Linked DNA regions of Homo sapiens: region 1 is linked to region 2. The links come from fine-mapping of genetic effects on gene expression. Tissue or cell type: tibial nerve. Region 2 holds a variant in brackets; the other region holds the start of a gene. All regions are shown on one strand. Distances are between the middles of the regions.

Evidence for each region. PIP is the estimated chance that this variant, and not a neighbour inherited with it, causes the effect.
Region 1: TSPAN15 starts here. The variant in region 2 is fine-mapped to the expression of TSPAN15 in tibial nerve (GTEx, PIP above 0.99). The same link has a PIP of 0.9 or more in amygdala, caudate, neural progenitor cells, nucleus accumbens, putamen and spinal cord.

The regions. Positions count from the first base shown.
Region 1 is chr10:69,448,863-69,453,862 of GRCh38, reverse strand. TSPAN15 (tetraspanin 15) reads right to left here and starts at 2,398. Exons shown (of 8, transcript NM_012339.5): 1 at 2,173-2,398. The coding sequence starts at 2,268. RefSeq lists enhancers at 1,378-1,878, 2,670-2,809, 2,759-3,376, 3,377-3,995 and a silencer at 2,240-2,549.
Region 2 is chr10:69,492,155-69,497,836 of GRCh38, reverse strand. TSPAN15 (tetraspanin 15) reads right to left here. Exons shown (of 8, transcript NM_012339.5): 4 at 2,148-2,243. Among named protein-coding and RNA genes, the nearest start is that of TSPAN15, 44 kb to the right of the region's middle. The variant G/A (reference allele first, on the strand shown) is at 3,072.

The DNA.
Region 1 (5,000 bases), 44 kb after region 2:
GGTAAGGCAACCTCAGTTGGCAGAGGAGGGATTCCAAGTTCTGAGAACCACCCTGCCCAAGAGAAGCAAGGCAAGGGCCATTGGGTGGGCTTCTCTGGGGGCTGCAAAGGACAGTGACAGAACAAAGCCTTAAAAATTAGAGTTCAGTTTTATTTAACTGCATGAGGTATGTTTGTACTGCACTGATTTTGCTCATATGTCACTCTTTCCCCATATCACTAATCCTAAAACAATTCAGTGAGGTACAGGGCAGAGATTCACTTATTCATTTTATAGATGAGAAAATGGAAACGTGAGGAGGTAGAGAGACTGGTTTGTGATTATATATCTGGGGAAGGGGTGAAGCCCAAAATACAACTCCATCTTCCTACCTCCCCACCCATCAACCTTAGGCTCTTTCAACTCTGATTTACAGAGAGAAGGGCTCACAGAACACACAAGGGGCAGGCACAGAAATCCTGGGGACTTAGGGGACCTATGAGACCATCTAGGGCAGCAGTTTTCAATACTGACTGCACACTAGAATTACCTTAATTCTAGTAAGTAATTTACTACAATTAAGCTTATGTAAATTTAAATAAATACCTATGCCAGGGCACAAGAATCTGATGCAACCGCTGATTTATAGCTCAAATCACCCCCACTCCCATCCCACATATGACCTTCTGTCTCCCTAGAGCTTCCACCAACAGGTCCTTGCTCCATCCTCCGCCCCCCAAACATACTGTTCATCTCTCCTCCACATTACCTAGAGTCAGAGAATTGGATTGGAAACTGGCCTCAGACTAGTCTTCTAGATGGAAAAGTCAATGAACAGTTCTGAGGCCCAAAACAGGAAAGTGACTTGCCTAAGATATCCATAAGTCAGTAACAGAGCTGAATCTGGATCTCCGATTACCAGGCAAGGCCCCACCCACAAAGGGGTCACAGGGAAAGCCAGTCCTGATGGCAAATCCAGCAGCTCCTGCTAGCAGAAGAGACCCAGCAAGGGGCTAAGGAGGACACCAGGGGAGAGTGTGTGTATTTGGTGGGAATGGGGTGTCAGTGACCACCCTGGGTCCCTGGGCAAGTCTGCTCTTGTGGCATACTGCAGGCAGAGAGCGATTCTGGAGTGACAGGGGCGGAGCTGGCCTATAGGAAGATATCCTCATCTCTAGAATAGGGCCCAGCCTAATATGAAACGCCCTTACAGAAACCCAATCTCTTGGGGCAGCTTACACCACAGGTGTCCAAATTCCCTGCCCACGATAGTAATAATGTCTCACACTTCTTGAGCTCTTCACTAGGCACCATACCCGGCCTATTTCACGTAATCTCCGCGAGCATCCTACAAGTTGAATATAATTACTGTGTCCATTTACAGATGAGGAAACCATGGCCGAGAGGAATGAAGTAACTTCCCCAAGATCACTCAGCAAGTGCTCATTTCAGAAACGCACAAACTGAAATTGGAACGATACAGAGATTAGCAATGTTTTAAATAAAAAATAAAATATAAAATAAAAGACCACTCGGAGCGACGGAATTCAAAGCTTGGTTCATGTCTAAACACTACCATCCTGCCCCCTAACAAGGCAGAGGAGGAGGTAAAGCCCAGCGACAGCGGAAACTGAGCACCTAGGTGTGCAGGAGACGTCGTCTGGTGGACTTCTCCTCGCCACGCAGGAGGCACGTGCATCCACCAAAGAGGAAACCAAGACGGAGCGGGGAAGCGTCTCGCTCAGGGGCATCAGCAAGTAACTAGCAGGGACCAGACCCGGAATCCAGGTCTCCCAACCCCGACTGCAAATCCTAACTACTTAAGCTCCACAGGCCGATGCAGAGGCAGTCAGTCCTACCGGGTAGGCGTGGTGGGCGCGGCCAGCGCGTTCACCTCAGCCTAGCCAGCCGGCCAGCGGACGCACAGCGGGCAAACCGCCCAGCCGGTGCACACAGGTGAGCCAGGTGGCACTCGGTCGGTCGACAACCGGCTCTCACACTCCCGAAAGGGCGGCTGAAAATTCAGGCTGAGCTCTGGCCGCCCGAATGTGAGGTAGAAAGACAAGGAGTCCGCGCGCGCTCACCCGCGCACTCCCTGGAGCGGCTAAGTGTGGACCCAACCCCGGGCCAGTGAGGGGGCGGCCGGATTGTGGGTCCCCACCCCCATCCCCGGGCCCTACTGGGGTCACTCACCCAGAACACGGTGGAATAGATGATAAGTGAAAACTTGAGCCAGAGGTAGGAGAAGCGCGCGCAGTAGCGCACCTGCTCCGAGTCCCCGCGCGGCATCCTGGGCGCTCCCCGCGCGGGTTACGGGGGCTCCGGGGCTCTCCGGCTCGGTCCCTCAGCCAGCGCTCGTGGCCCCACCTGCGGCTGCCGGGCTACCAGCCCCGCCACCGGCGTTCTCTCCGGGACTGACACTGGAGCGCGGCAATCACAGCCCCAGCCGGGAAGCCTGCCAGCCCTGGCGGCCAATGGGAGGCCGCGGCTGCCTAGCGTCTGGGAGGGGGCGGGCCAGGGGCGGGGCTGCTGCCCTGGGCCCTAGAGGGGACCAAGAAGGGATGGGAGGGGGAGACGGTCTTGCAAATGAGCTCGCGTGCAACTCTGGAAACGCCTGTGCTAATGCAGGGGGCGTGGGAGAGGTGAACCAGAGGTGCTCTAAGGAGAGAGCGAGCGTGCCTAATCGGGGTACATAGAAATGCAAGCTTTCCTCTTGTCAAGAGGGAAAACTTTGGGAAAAGGGCAAGAATTAATCGCCCAGGTGTTGAAAGTGCAAATGAGTGTGCTAAACGTGAATGGAATAAGGAAGTGGAGTTGCTCGGCTCAGGAAGGCTCAGGGAGGCAGACCAGGGTGGGGCTAATAGGCCCCCATGGAGCTGGAGTCTGAAGTTTGCTCGTGAAACAGATCTGCTGAAGGCCTTCACCAAACGACCTCGGAAGTCCCCTTCTTTTGCCAGGTGATAACCCAGCCTTGGGAAGGGTTCCTCCCGGGAAACCCCATCTTCAAACTAGGTTGAAGGCCTGGCGCGGTGACTCACGCCTGTAATCCCAGCACTTTGGGAGGCTGAGGAGGGCGAATGGCTTGAGCCCCAGGAGTTCAAGACCAGCCTGGGCAACATGGCAAAACGCCGACTCTATAATTAAAAAAAATAAAAAGCCAGGCACGGTGGCGCGCCTGTTGTCCCAGCTACTTGGGAGACAGGCGGGAGAATCGCTTGAGTCAGGGAAGTCAAGGCTGCAGTGAGCCGTGATTGTGCCAGTGCACTCCAGCCTGGGAGACAGAGTGAGACCCTCTCTCCAAAACAAAAACAAAAACAAGGCCGGGCACGGTGGCTCACGCCTGTAATACCAACACTTTGGGAGGCCAAGGCGTGCGGATCACTTGAGGTCAGGAGTTCGAGACTAGCCTGGACAACGTGGTGAAACCCTGTCTCTACTAAGAAATACAAAAAAAATTAGCCGGGCAGGGTGGTGCATGCCTGTAGTCCCAGCTACTGGGGAGGCTGAAGCAGGAGAATCGCTTGAACCCGGGAGGCGGAAGTTACAGTGAACCGAGATCCCGCCACTGCACTCCAGCCTGGGTGACAAAGGGAGACTCCATCTCAAAAAAACAAAAAACAAACAAACAGAAACTATAGGTGAGGGAGGCAGCTCCCTCTCTTGCACATAGCCAGCCACTAACCCAGCCTCCTCCCACCTGGCCTTTTCTCAGCCTGGGACCAGAGGTGGCTGTGAGCCTGTCTCTCATGCTAGATGGTCCCAGCTTTACTCACTGTTGTTTCCTGTCTCCCAAGCCTAGCTCAGCCTGGGACTTGGGAGCCAGACAATCCCTGCTGTGGCCTTCAGTAATTAAATCCATGGCAGAGGTCATAAGCTCTAGCAGTGCTGGGTGGGGTCCCTGGTGGTGATTTCAGGAACGACACTCTTATACAAGTCCCCAGTCCTGGGTTCCCAGGGCTCCTGCATACACAAACTCAACAGAGAAGGACAGACTCAGAGACTTAGTCCAGGCTGGCTTTAGCCCCCAGAGCTCTGCCCTAGGAGGAAGAAAGCAAGATTGGGGGGTGGGGAGGGAGGCAGTGCCATGCCTGGAAGGGTAAAAGGAAACCAATTTCCTGGTACAAAACAAACAAACCTTGGGAGGATGTTTGTGTGGGGTAGAGAAATAGAACCAGAGCCAGGCACAGTGGCTCATGCCTGTAATCCCTGCACTTTGGGAGGCCAAGGTGAGAGGTTTGCTTGAGTCCAGGAGTTTCAGACCAGTCTGGGCAACGTAGCAAGACCTCATCTCCACTGAAAATCAAAAAAATTAGCCAAGCATGGTGTCTCGTGCCTGTAGTCCCAGCTACTTGGGAGGGTGAGGTGGGGGTATCACTTCTCGAGCCCAAAAGATCAAGGCTGCAGTGAGCTATGATTGTGCTACGGCACTCCAGCCTGGACAACAAAGCAAGACCCTGTCTCAAAAAAAAAACAACAGGGAAAAGAAAAGGTGGAAAGAGAACCAGAGAGTAATGCAAGCTGCCCTCAAATGATTATCTGAGGGCCAAGAAGGCATCTTACCATAGTGTTAAAAGTTGTCCATTCTGGCCGGGCGCGGTGGCTCACACCTGTAATCCCAACACTTTGGGAGGCCAAGGCAGGGGGATCACTCGAGGTCAGGAGCTCAAGATCAGCCTGGCCAACATGGTGAAACCCTGGCTCTACTAAAAATACAAAAATTAGCCGGGCATGGTGATGGGTGCCTGTAATCCCAGCTACTCGGGAGGCTGAGGCAGGAGAATCACTTGAACCTGGATAGCAGAGGTTGCAATGAGTCAAGATCGTGCCACTGCACTCCAGCCTGGATGACAGAGCGAGACTCGGTCCCCAAAAAAAAAAAAAGTTGTCCTTTCTGTCCTTTGAGGAGGAAGACTAACTTTTTATTCCTCTTTGAGGGCTAGAGCCTCCACCCAGCCCTGCAGAGCTAAGTCCACACCCATTATTTGAGGTGCTAGTCTCTTCCCCACCCATAGAAGCTTGGA
Region 2 (5,682 bases):
CTGGCCCTGCCCTTAGCAAGGAGAGCACCCACACCTCACAACCTGCCTGGAGCTCTCCCCTTAGCCGAGCCCCTCCCTGCCTCCCCTCCCTGCTCCTGTAGGAAGTAGTTGGTAACCCTCCTGATGGCTGGTATGTGCCTGGCATTGTCCTGGGCACTGGAGAGACAGGGTGAGCAAAAGCAAGGCAGCCCTTGCTCAGGTGGAACACATTCCAGTGGAGAGACAGAGAGTGAGCACTGGATGGAAAGGTGCTGTGCAACCTGGAAATGGAGAAATAGGGGGAAAGTGGGGAGGGGCAGCTCTAGGTTGGCAGGTCATGAAAGGGCTCTTTGTAGAGAGGATATTTCATCTGAAACATGGAAACAGAAAGAAGCCAGACGACCCATGCAAAGGCCCCACGCAGAAACAAGCTTGTATTTCAGCAGCAGGTGCGGAGGCCAACAAGCCTGGAACAGAGAGAGTGCAGAGCATGAGGATGAAAGGGCGGCACAGGCTGGACCATGCAAAGCTTTGCCAGCCAGCTGAAGCAGGGAGCTGGGACTGGAGGGCTCAACCAGGGCTGCAGTACACGTCCTGGTAGCCAGACACCTTTCAGAGTCCCCACAGTGCCCCTTAAGCCACCAGGTTTTGGGACCTAGAACTGTCTTTCTGCAATGTAGTTCAAAGGGCATTTGTCTTGCAATGGAACAGACCCAAGGTCAAATCCTCAGACCACCACTCCCTGCTGTGCAACCTCAGGCAAGTTGGTCAGCCTCTCTGAGCCTCAGATGGTTGTCTGTAAAGCAAGAATAAGGATGGCAGCTCTGCACAGCTGAGCTGTGATTACATAGAGTGCCATGCATGAAGCACTCAGCACTGGACCTGGCACCAAGCAAGTGCCCATTCAGCATTAATCACCTCCTACCTCTATGCCAGGAGAAATGAAATCCCCAAGCCAGCTAAAGGCTGGTTCCAATAAAAACATCTCACTCCACCCGGAGCAGAAGTCAGCTCTCCCAGCCCAAGCTGGCAGGCACATCCCTGGCAGAAAAAGACCTTCCAGAGGCTGCACCTGTTGTGACTGAAGAGAAAGTCTGGGCCAAGGGAGCGGCCACAGCAAGTGGCCCTGCATGTGGGGAGAGGCTAGTCCCCACTGAGAGCTGGCACAAGGATCCAGGCCAGCTGAGGCCCCCAAGATTATGTCCCAGGAAGTGCTGTCCCGGCTGAGTGGGCCTGCAGCCCTCACTCTACTTGTCCTCACCCAGGAGAACATACCAATGATCCCCACAGCTGGCACTGTGGTCTCACCCTGTGCTTGGCACTGTTCTAAGCACGTCTCCTGAATTAAGTCAAGGTAATCCTCATGACGACGCCCCAAGAGCTCCTGTCATTATTCCCCTTATGTAGGTGAGGAAGCTGAGGCTCAGGACCAAGTGAAGTTGATGTACAAAAGCCACCCAGGACAGCAGCTGGCCCTACCACTGCCATTATTATTATTATTATTATTATTATTATTATTATTATTATTATTATTATTGCACCAACAGATTTGGGTGGACCTAGAGGGGAGAGATGGTGTCCCAAAAGGAATAGGATCATCATCACATTCAAGGAAGTGTCATGAAAGTAAGAGAGGCGTCTGGTTCACTGTCCCATATTTGGGGGAAACTGAAATTAGTGAAGAACTTTCTCCCAATCAGGGATGTCTTTAACTTGACAAGGAGTGAGTTGTCACTGAAGAGACTTGGCAGAGGGGGCTTTGGACTGGGGTAGGTTACTCCCCTTGAGGTTGCTCACACCTCAAGGAAGGAGGATCCTTGCCCATTGGAGGGTGGTGCCCTGGGACCCTGCAAGGTTGCTTGTAGCAACACCTGACTTTGTTTTATTTGGGGGTATGGGGCAGGAAGCCAGTGTAACTGGAGAGGAACAGAAGGGTGTGAAGGTTTTGGGTCAGGAATGTGGGCAGAGGACTGGCTGAATAGGTTGGGCCCTGGCTTCCCCATCCTTGGTGGGCCATCCATGCTCACTGTTGCCTCCCAATCTGGCCAGCCACCTGCTTTGGGAATGGATAAGTCACCTGGTCCCTCACCCCATCTTCTTGAGCAGGGGCCTGAATGGGGGGCTAAGAGCACGGGAGGCGCATCTCTACCCCAAAGCGCCTGGCTCACCTTTTTCTGAACAAAGTCCATGATGTTTTTGAAGTCCAGATCATCATAGTAGTTCTCAATTCCTCTTCGAATGTTGTCGTTCAGGAAGTCAATGGTCTATTCAAAAGGAGAAATTACAAAGGAAAAGAACCACACACTCCCGGAGTCCAACCCAAGGTTTTCCAGAAGCCTGGATGGGTAGAGAATGCCTTGTGCCAATGCAGCTCGCGCCCAGCCAGCATGGAGCCCCCTCCACTCCCCACCCTGGATGCCCGTGACCTCCCTACCCACACATCCTCCCCGTGCCTCCAGTGTTCATCTGATGCCTGAGTGCCTGTGCTATGTCCCAGCAGGAGTAATTCACTCCACTCCCTTTGCAGACCAGACAGCCCAGGCCCTGAGAGGCTGGGGCCGTGCTTGGGGACACACAGCTCTGATGCCGCCATGCCTGAGCTGAGACCTGGCTGTCCTGGTTCCAGGCCCAGTGCTCTTTCTACCGCCCAGGGATGGGCCCACGCTGGAATCTTCCCTTTGCCCTCCAGAGCCCCTCTCCACACTCCTCCACCATCCAGCCTCTTGTTTTACAGATGAGGAGCTCGAGACTTGGGGAGGGAGTGAGGTCACAGAGCAGGCTGGGTGGGGTCTTGCCAGGACTGGAATTCAGGTCTCCTGACCTCCCTCATGGGCTGTTCTCCTCATCACTGCAGCACTCGGTCCCCCTCGGCTAGGGCTGGGACAATCCCTGCCGGGAGGAACATGGCAGGCCGCCCTCTCCCAGTCACGCTGCGCTTTCTGGATCAACAGCCCGGCTGTTGTGCTGAGACCCAGAAGCACAAAGGGCCCCACAGTGGGAAGGGGCGGGGGCAGGAGCGTGGGCAGCCCAGCTCACTGTAACAATCGCAGCTTTCAGAGCACGGAGGTCGAGTATCAGCAGAGACTGGGGAC[G/A]AAGGGGGCATTCTCGGCTCCGGTGCCAGACTGAAGAGCCAGACAATTCCCGGGGGTGGCACCACAGCGTACGCTGGGACAACAGGATCCTGGTTCCAGGCCCCATCGCGGCTTACTTCTCCTCTCTGGGCCTCAGCTTCCCAACTGTGAACCAAACCCGTAGGCCTATCTTTAAGGTAACTTCGAGCTCTGAGAATCAAAAACCAAGTCTCAGAGGGGCTGTCAAGCCTCATAATCAAGGACACCTCCCTACAGCCACCTGGGCCTCCGCTACTTCTTTTAACTTCTGAGCCTCTGTTTGCTCACCTGCAAAATCAGGAGGAAAACACTCTCTGCCTCATAGGGATGTTGTGAGATTTAAATAAACAAAAGCTGTGAAGGTGTTTAGCAGGACACCAGGCACATTGTAGGTCCTGGTGTTATTATTCAAGATTTTTGTCTGTTTTTAAAGGAGACAAATACTCTATGGTACTACTTCACACCCACGTCATTGGTGGAAAACAAATCCCGTGGGAAACCGAGGCCCCAACTCTTGTTCAAAAAACTGACTGCAATGGAGGCAGCCTCTGAGGCACGAGTCCTGGCCAACCCCACTCTCACAACACCCTGCAGCCCAGAGAGCGATGTGGCTAGTCCGAGGTTGCCCAGCACACCACTGGCAGAGAGACGCTGGGACCAGGGTGTCAAACTCCCAGCCTGACACACTTTAAGGTGCTAAGAAACCAAGGTTCAGGTTTGGGGCCATCTCCCAAAATTATCTCCAGGATCAGGAAAAGAGGAACAAAGACTGCAGCACCCACCTCCTCCCCGAGCCTCGCTCTGCTCAAAGCCAAGGTAAAGAAGGAGATGGAGGCCTGGCGCGGTGGCTCATGCCTGTAATCCCAGCACTTTGGGAGGCCGAGGTGGGCAGATCACCTGAGGTCAGGAGTTCGAGACCAGCCTGACCAATATGATGAAACCCTGCCTCCACTGAAAATACAAAAATTAGCAGGGCGGCCTGGCGCAGTGGCTCACGCCTGTAATCCCAGCACTTTGGGAGGCCAAGGCAGGCGGATCACAAGGTCAGGAGATCAAGACCATCCTGGCTAACTCGGTGAAACCCCGTCTCTACTAAAAATACAAAAAATTAGCCAGGCGTGGCAGCGTGCGCCTGTAGTCCCAGCTACTCGGGAGGCTGAGGCAGGAGAATCGCTTGAACCTGGGAGGCAGAGGTTGCAGTGAGCCGAGATGGCACCACTGCACTCTAGACTGGGTGACAGAGCAAGACTCTGTCTCAAAAAAAAAAAAAAAAAAAAGGAGATGGGCTCGGAGAAACTGGCCTTCGTGGCCAGAAGGAAAGTCCTCTGCTGATGATAAACAGCAGCTCTGGAGCAGGCCTGGGATTGCAGAAGACTGGAGTCAGCCCCAAGAGAAGAGAGGAGATGCAGGCTCCTGTGAGCAGCTGTCAACTCACCAGCCCATGGCCCTTCGCGGACCTGGCACTGGCCCCCGGGGCAGAAGTTGGGTGGGAGCATTGCCTTCCAGCCGAGCAGCCTGGGCAGAACAAGGACTCTCTTGGCCCCAGGCCCACCTCCCAGAGGCCCCCAGGTCACAAAGCTTTTCCATCCTTGGGTGCCTGCTCCTCTGGGTGATGAAGGGACAGGCCAGCTGGCTGGGGTGTGGTTGGGGGTGCCTAAAAAACAGGATACCAGGGTGGGGCCAGTCTGCCACCCAGGGTGGGGCAGGGGAATGAGCTTACAGCACTGAACGACATGATTGGCTGAGCTACGTACTCATGGGGTGCCGCCAGGGTCAGGGCCTTGCCTAAGGCCACACGTGGGGAGGTTCCTCCCGGGTGGCTTCCCCCTACTCTCAAGGCACCACAGACACAGTCCTGGCCCACCATGTCCCTCTGCACCTACCCGGGCCCACTGGCCCACTTACAGCACCCCCACTGGCCACTGTGCTGTTTGGACTCTCCCAGGGCTGCCAACAGGGTGGGATGAAGGTGGGAAGCCCAGGGCAGGAAGGAGGGGAAGTGGCAGAGTAGAGGCTGCTCTGTGGCTGTGGGGAAAGGCTCTGCCTCTCTGGTGAGCAGCCCCAGCCTGCCTCCCCAAACCATCCCGCCTCCCCAAACCATCCCGCCTCCTGGGCACTTTCCAAGGCTCGGGCTTCGAGAGGGGCCTGGAAAAATTCGGCCTTTCATCTGGTAAGCTGAGCCCTGTTGTTGGGGGAAGGGGGGCCCTGCAGGAGCAACAGATGTCCCTGGGCTTCATGGACAGCAGCTGCCCCCAACCCCCATCAGGGAGCTCTTTGAGGCATGCTGGTTCTTGCAAGTGTGCACCACTTGTATGTGTGTGCACGTGTGTATGTGTACCGGGGAGACGAGGACACTGAGATGGTTCCTGTGCTGTGAGGGGCGATGGTTGGGGGTGGGTGTGTGTGAGAAGATCCCGTGAGGCAAGCTGGCTGTGCAGTTTAACTGTAAAGTGCTATGCCGCCGTTGACAGCACTGGTAATGTTCCGAGAGACCAGGGGAGCCACTCAGAGGACAGGGAAGAGAGAATTCTAGCTTCCTCTGCCATTCCCAGATGCCCAACATACCCAGTGCCACTGCCCCCACCCCATTCCC